Homo sapiens: one gene and its partner. The protein of the gene in region 2 purifies or fractionates together with the protein of the main gene of each other region. This does not show direct contact. Each region holds a gene or a part of one and is shown on either strand. Other genes may lie near its edges.

The links. The genes of interacting proteins can lie anywhere in the genome.
Region 1: the proteins of NHLRC2 (region 2) and TSR1 purify together in Homo sapiens (affinity purification with mass spectrometry, with the first as the bait; one large-scale study listed by BioGRID). This does not show direct contact.

What each region holds. Positions count from the first base shown.
Region 1 is NC_000017.11:2,326,458-2,329,957, reverse strand, and holds part of TSR1 (pre-rRNA-processing protein TSR1 homolog), read left to right. Parts: intron 1-482; coding exon 483-615; intron 616-747; exon of another isoform or gene 748-833; intron 834-3,500. UniProt on the Homo sapiens protein: Required during maturation of the 40S ribosomal subunit in the nucleolus.
Region 2 is NC_000010.11:113,903,161-113,906,660, reverse strand, and holds part of NHLRC2 (NHL repeat-containing protein 2), read right to left. Parts: intron 3,135-3,500; coding exon 2,925-3,134; intron 1,845-2,924; coding exon 1,625-1,844; intron 1-1,624. UniProt on the Homo sapiens protein: Required for normal embryonic development.

The DNA.
Region 1 (3,500 bases), on a different chromosome or scaffold from region 2:
ACAAGAGCGAAACTCTTATGTCAAAAAAAAAAAAAGTTTATGCCAAAGTGCAGATCTCTTTTCTCTTGGTGGCCAGTAGTTGTGTATGTTGTGGGGTATGTGATAGTTCTTTGATCGGTTTTGGTAAGGGCTCAAGAAGAAGGGGCTTGAATGAGTGTGGTTTTGAGATTGTGGTGAGTGAATGCCTTGAAGGCCACTGATTTTTGTGTGGCAGATGTTGAGCTCTTTTCTGTTAGGTGCAGGAAGGTAGGTTAGCATTGAAGGGTGCATGAAAGCTCTGATCAGCCTGTGTTTGGCTTAAATGCCAGTCATTGGTGGAGGTAAAGGATGAACCCGTGTTTCAGCATCTACACTCCACCATTAATTAGCATTGTCAGTTCTTAGAATGAGTCTGAATCTGCTAGTTTGGTTTGCCTTCTTTCAGTTTAGGCAATTGTATTCCTAGACTATGAAGATTTTTGTTTTTCTTACTTGGTCCCCAGATGTCAGTATTGAATATGGTGGTGAGGCGTGACCCTGGCAACACTGAACCTGTGAAAGCCAAGGAAGAGCTCATATTTCACTGTGGATTCAGGCGCTTCCGAGCCTCACCTTTATTCTCTCAGCACACTGCAGGTTAGCAATGGGGAAGCTGGGTTCTTGTCCATCTTGTCTTTTGGGAAAGTGACTTGTGGTGGAGGGGTGCCAAAATATATGGTTTCAAAATCTTACATCTCTGGGTTAGAGGTATTTTCAGTACTCTGGCTTAAGAGCCAATGATGTTTTTATTCAAAATGTCTGAACCTGTCTGAAGCATCCCAGTGATGCAACTTCTGTGTGATACTGAGGCTTTTTTGCCATGAGTATTTGTTCCATAGCAGGTTTTGAATAGAAGTTGGCAGCTTTATAAAAAGGGTATTAGGGTGGGTGCAGTGGTGCAGTGGTTCACACCTGTAATCCCAACACTTGTGGCATTAGAACGGGGAATTGAAGACCAAAAAAGGTAAGATTTAATCTTGTTTTTGTTTCTGTTTTTTTTTTTTTTTTTTTTTTTTTTTTGAGACGGAGTCTCACTCTGTCGCCCAGGCTGGAGTGCAGTGGCGCGATCTAGGCTCACTGCAAGCTCCGCCTCTCAGGTTTACTTACACCATTTTCCTGCCTCAGCCTCCCAAGTAGCTGGGACTACAGGCGCCCGCCACCATGCCCAGCTAATTTTTTGTATTTTTAGTAGAGACGGGGTTTCACCGTGTTAGCCAGGATGGTCTCTATCTCCTGACCTCGTGAGCCGCCCGCCTCAGCCTCCCAAAGTGCTGGGATTACAGGTGTGAGCCACCGCGCCCCCTCTTGTTTTTTTTGTTTTTTTTTGTTTGTTTGTTTGTTTGTTTTTTTGGAGACGGAGTCTTACTCCGTTGCCCAGGCTGGAGTGCAATAGCGTGATCTCGGCTCACTGCAACCTCCGCCTCCCGGGTTCAAGCAATTCTCCTGCCTCAGCCTCCCGAGTAGAGTAGTTGGGACTACAGGCATGCACGACCATGCCCAGCTAATTTTTGTATTTTTAGTAGAGATGGGGTTTCACCATGTTGGGGTTTAGTAGAGATGGGGTTTCACCAAGACCAGGAGTTCAGGCTGGTTTTGAACTCCTGGTCTCAGGTGATCCGCCCACCTCGGTCTCCCAAAGTGCTGGGATTACAGACATGAGCCAATGTGCCTGGCCTCTTTTTTTTTTTTTTTTTTTTTGAGACCGAGTCTCACTCTGATGCTCAACTGGAGTGCAATGGTGCAATCCAGGCTCACTGCAACCTCTGCCTTCCAGGTTCAATCAGTTTTCCTGCCTCAGCTTCCCGAGTAGCTGAGATTACAGGCACCCGCCACCACGCCTAGCTAATTTTTGTATTTTTAGTAGAGACGGGGTTTCACCATGCTGGCCAGGCTGGTCTCGACCTTAGGCGATCCTCCTGCCTTGGCCTTCCAAAGTGCTGGGATTACAGGCGTGAGCCACTGCGCCTGGCCAGTCATTCTTTTATTGTTTCAAAATGGTTTTGATTTTTTTTTTTAGGATGAACTATTTTCATATTTTATACAGTTGGGAAAATAAGGAATAATGTAAAAGTAAAATTACCTTATATTAGAGAAAATTCATTTTTATTTTATACATTTTCATCCAGATCTCATTTTTTTTCTTTACACAATTTGGATTGTAATTGTAAATATGGTGTTAAACATTGCATTTATCACTTAATTGATTTTGATCAATTTTCCATAAGATTAATTAGTTAATGAGACTTTTAATGCTTTATTGTCATTTGGATATATTCCAGTGTATGTGATGTACTGATACTTATTTGAGCTTCTACGGGTGAGCACTTAGGCTATTTCTAATGTTTTGCTCTAAACTAGATCTGTATGCATAAAACTTTATTTACTTCTTTGCTTATTTTGTAAAGGCAGATCCTTAGAACTGGAACTAAATAAAAGTCTCAGTTGCAGAGACTGAGGCAGGAGGATCGCTTGAGGTCAGGAGTGTGAGACTCCGGTCTCTACAATTTTTTTTTTTTTTTTTTTGATATAGAGTCCAACTCTGTCACCAAGGCTGGAGTGCAGTAACATGATCTCAGCTCATTGCAGCCTCCCCGTCCCAGGTTCAAGTGATTCTGGCGCCTCAGCCTCCCAAGTAGCTCGGACCATAGGTGTCTGCCACCACGCCCAGCTACTTTTTGTATTTTTAGTAGAGATGGGGTTTCACCAAGTTGGCCAGTCTGTTCTCAAACTCTTGACCTCAGGTGATCCACGTGCCTTGGCCTCCCAAAGTGCTGGGATTTATAGGGATGAGCCAACATGCCCGGCCTCTACGAAAAAAAAATTTTTTTTTTTGGGAGATGGAGTTTCACTCTTGTTGCCCAGGCTGGAGTGCAGTGGCAGGATCTTGGCTCACTGCAACCTCTGCCTCCTAGGTTCAAGTGATTCTCCTGCCTCAGCCTCCCAAGCAGCTGGGATTACAGGCGTGTACCACCATGCCTAGCTAATTTTTCTATTATTAGTAGAGATAGAGTTTCACCATCTTGGCCAGGCTGGTCTCAAACTCCCGACCTCAGGTGATCCACCCGCATTGGCCTCCCAAAGTGCTGGGATTACAGGCATGAGCCACTGCGCCCGGCCAAAAATTTTTCTTTTTAATTAGCCAGGTGTGGTGGCATGTGCTTTGCAGTCCCAGCTACTTGGGAGGCTGAGGCAAGAGGGATTGCCTGAGCCAGTGGGCCCAGGAGTTTGAGGCTCCAGTGAGCTGTGTTCACACCACAGCCCTTAAAATATTTTATTTTCCTATAAGTTTAGTATTTTTAAAAGGGGGGTGAGGGCTACATTGAAGGTAGAACACCAAATACAGTCTAGCCTAGATAGCAGAGTGAGACACTGTCTCTCAGAATTTAAAAGGGTGTGATAAAGTGTGGAAACTTTGATGTCTAGTGTGCCAAGGGCAGTGTGGGTGAAGGAATGGAGGCTGGGTATGGCTCATAGTTGGGTAA
Region 2 (3,500 bases):
TTAATGTCCAAATCTAGAAATAAAACAGAAAATGTTTCTTTAGATATTTGTCATATATATCACACACACAATTTGTGAAGTTACAACACATGTGGTGCTTTTATGCTGCCTTTTTTTTTTTGGCTTAAAACTTGCATATATTCTAACTTCTTTAAGATTATACAGACCAAAATTTGGCTAAAAATAAGTGTTTCTAAATAACAAGCCAAAAGAGAAAATGTCCTTTAAACATAAGTGTACAAATGTACTCTATAATATTCAAAAACCTTAAATTATTAGGATTATTGCCTGAAAATTATCTGCTACTATATAATAAAAATGGGGCCCATATCTTGGACAAATTAGATAAAGTCTCTATAGACTACTTTATTTGAATACTATCTGTATTTTATATCCCAATGACTCAATATTAATTAGTGTGTCTGACAATGCAGACCAATGTTAATCTGTCAATATCCTATTTTAAAAATTAGTACACTGCTCCTACAGTGACACCATTTAATACACTGCTCTAACAGTGACTGCTCTTACAGTTACACTGAGAAAAATTAATGTTCTCCAACTGATGTAATACTTCCAGACTTAAATTGGCAGTCTAGAACTTGCTCTGAACCTACAAAAGGCTATGGAGTGGCCAGGGTTTGAGTATTCTTCTGTCTACAAAGCAAGCTCCAAAGGTCCTAGTACATGGTTAGCCTTCCCCCTTGTGGGAAGTGACAAGGGGTGGTTTCCCTACAGACTCAATCACCCTAGAACCAGCCTCCCAAACACTAACCAGCAGTTCCTCCCAGCCAGTCTACCAAGATACCGTTATCCTCTTGGTTTAGACACTAAGTTGATATTATAATTGCAGGCCAGTGGCTGCTGCCCTGAGAAAGTTGAAGGTAAGAAGGAATGAATTACCCAGGATTTGGGTAATGTACAAAAGAAAAGTGTGTGAGAGGGTATGAAGGAGGAGGAGTTGGGAAGGAAATGGAAAATTGAGTGAGAAAGTGTGAAAGAGCGTGGGAGACCAGGACAGAGGAATATCATTAGAGACAAGTTGTAATTTAGAAGTTCTGAACCACTAAAATTTCACTTTAAAATTTTTGTCCACCAGGTTACAGATGTTGGAATGCATACTGCAAGGCAAGCAGTATACTGATTCCTTACCATAGATTAATGAAATAAGGAGCTAGCTCATACTGTGATTCACAAATAGAAGAAAGGGAGGAATGCCCAAGAGTGACTGAAAGGAAGAGTCACAGAAAAAGATGTTAAATACGAGGGCTCCACTTTCTCTATTTCAGACTTTTTAACTCTAAGATTCTTTTTGGAACAAGAATAGAATGAAGAACAGGATCAGAATAAGGGATGAGGTATAGGAAAACCCACATTCCAAGAAATCATGCTAACAACTGACTTGTAACTTTTGGTGAGTTACACTGTTCTTTAATAAAAGGGAAGAAAGACTCTTGATGAGTAAAGCAAATGGCCAATGTGGGGTTGGATCTGGATTCATTTGTTCATATGATCTTCAAATCTTGCCTATACAGAGTAAAAATATCACCTAACAAATAAAAAATAACTAGATTAAACATCAAGAATATATGATGTATTAGTATTTGCAAGCTTATACTCATACCTTCAGCTGTTAGAAACCAGCAACTGGATACTCCTTCAGTTAGCTTTGATCCTGATGGGAGGTCTAATCTGAGTTTGAACTGAAGAGTCTGGCCAGCACACGCAGTCACGGGGGAAAGCCTAATGCTTGGAGCAGATTTAGGTAGTTTGGGTAATGTCTTCTGTTTTTCTACTAGGAACGGGCCATCTACCACAGCATTTTCAGATCTGAAGATGGGGAGCTAGGAAATAAGAAAATCTGTTATTAAAACACAAGAACTTTATATTAATTATAGAATGAGAGCATATTTTTAGACTTTAGTAGAATAATGAAGTTCTATGTCAATGAAACTAATCGCCATTCTAGTTTGAATTAGAATGTGTTAGATGCCCTCAAGATTATTTTCGTAGACACAGAGAAAGTTTATCTTAGCGACAACAACAAAACCCAACACTTATGAATGAGGCAGAATTAAAGTAACTGTCCAATGTATATAGACGGCAGGAAATTAAAGCAAAAGTTTATAAATTTAAACATGCTAGATATACATTTTCTTATAATTTTCATTGTCAACTATAAGAAGATGTTATTCATCTTATATCAGAGATCTACGTGAAGAGAAATGACATTTATGTTGCAATAGTAATCTATGTTTCTTTTAAAAATATACCGTGCAAATTACCAGTTTTTCAGAAAAAAACTGTTGCATTTTTTTCAGGTAAATGTCATACATCAAGAGTTAGTTTATAATAGACATTTCCCCTTGAAAATTCTATAAGAAACCACGTCCATATCTTTAAAAACTGACTATAACTCATTTAAGTTTCTTCCACAATCTTATTTTCGATGTCTTGAGAAAGTGGCTTCTAAAGCTTTTGTTAGATTATTTGGTAATGGATTCATCACAGGCAAACAAAGGTTACATGTTAATCTAAAGATCACTGAAAAAAAAAAAAAAACAAAAACAATAAGCTAAATAACCCAACCCACAGAGCAGGTGTATGTAGTGTATGTCAGTATGTCTGTACACTTAAAAACAGATCTGAGTCCTCTCCTTTTTTTTTTCTTGAAGGTTCATTAGATTATCTCCAATTTCCAGTATTTTTCTCAAACTCTCAGCACAGATGGAACTTTTATTTTAAGAATAAAAGGATATCCTTAAAGCAGTCCTGCTGGTCTCTTTGTCAAAGAATACAACAGAAGCATCCACTTAATACTCTCCTGGAGATGGTCTAACCAAAAATGCCTCTGTCAGTGCTGTGAGGATCTTAGTATCATTCTTAAAACCACATTCTTTAACTTATATTTTAAAATTACTTACCACAGATACCATTTTAGTTTCTAAATCCATCACTTTAATTTGATGATTATTGGTGTCTGCTACATATAATAATTCTCCATTCTCTCCAATACACAAGCCTCCTGGTTCATTAAAAGTTGACTCTGTAAAACTGGAACTGGTAACATTATTTGTGTCTCCAGTTCCTGCTAATGTTGTACAGTTTTTTGTTTTTGGATCCACAACTTTAATCTAAAAAAGAAAGAACAAAAACTTATATAACTGAAGATCAATCTCATGTTTGTTGTATGGAAGAGTATGGTATCAAGCAAGCTAATTTCTGATTGCCATTAATATTCTCAATAAGTCTCACAAAAGGAATAGTTATTTCCATATTTTCTTGAAAAGCCAAACATTCAAATTGCAGTCTAAGGGGAGATATTCTATTCTAAGAACTAAAGACTATGTAAAATCCTTAGCTCCATCTTGTCTTCTGGAAGCAATCTTTGATGAAGTTATTTCTGGAATTAAAAAAAATTTTTTTTTATTGAATTGTTTTTCTTCACAATGGGACACACTTTCACAACTGAACTGACTTTGTCTTCCTGAGCATCTAGC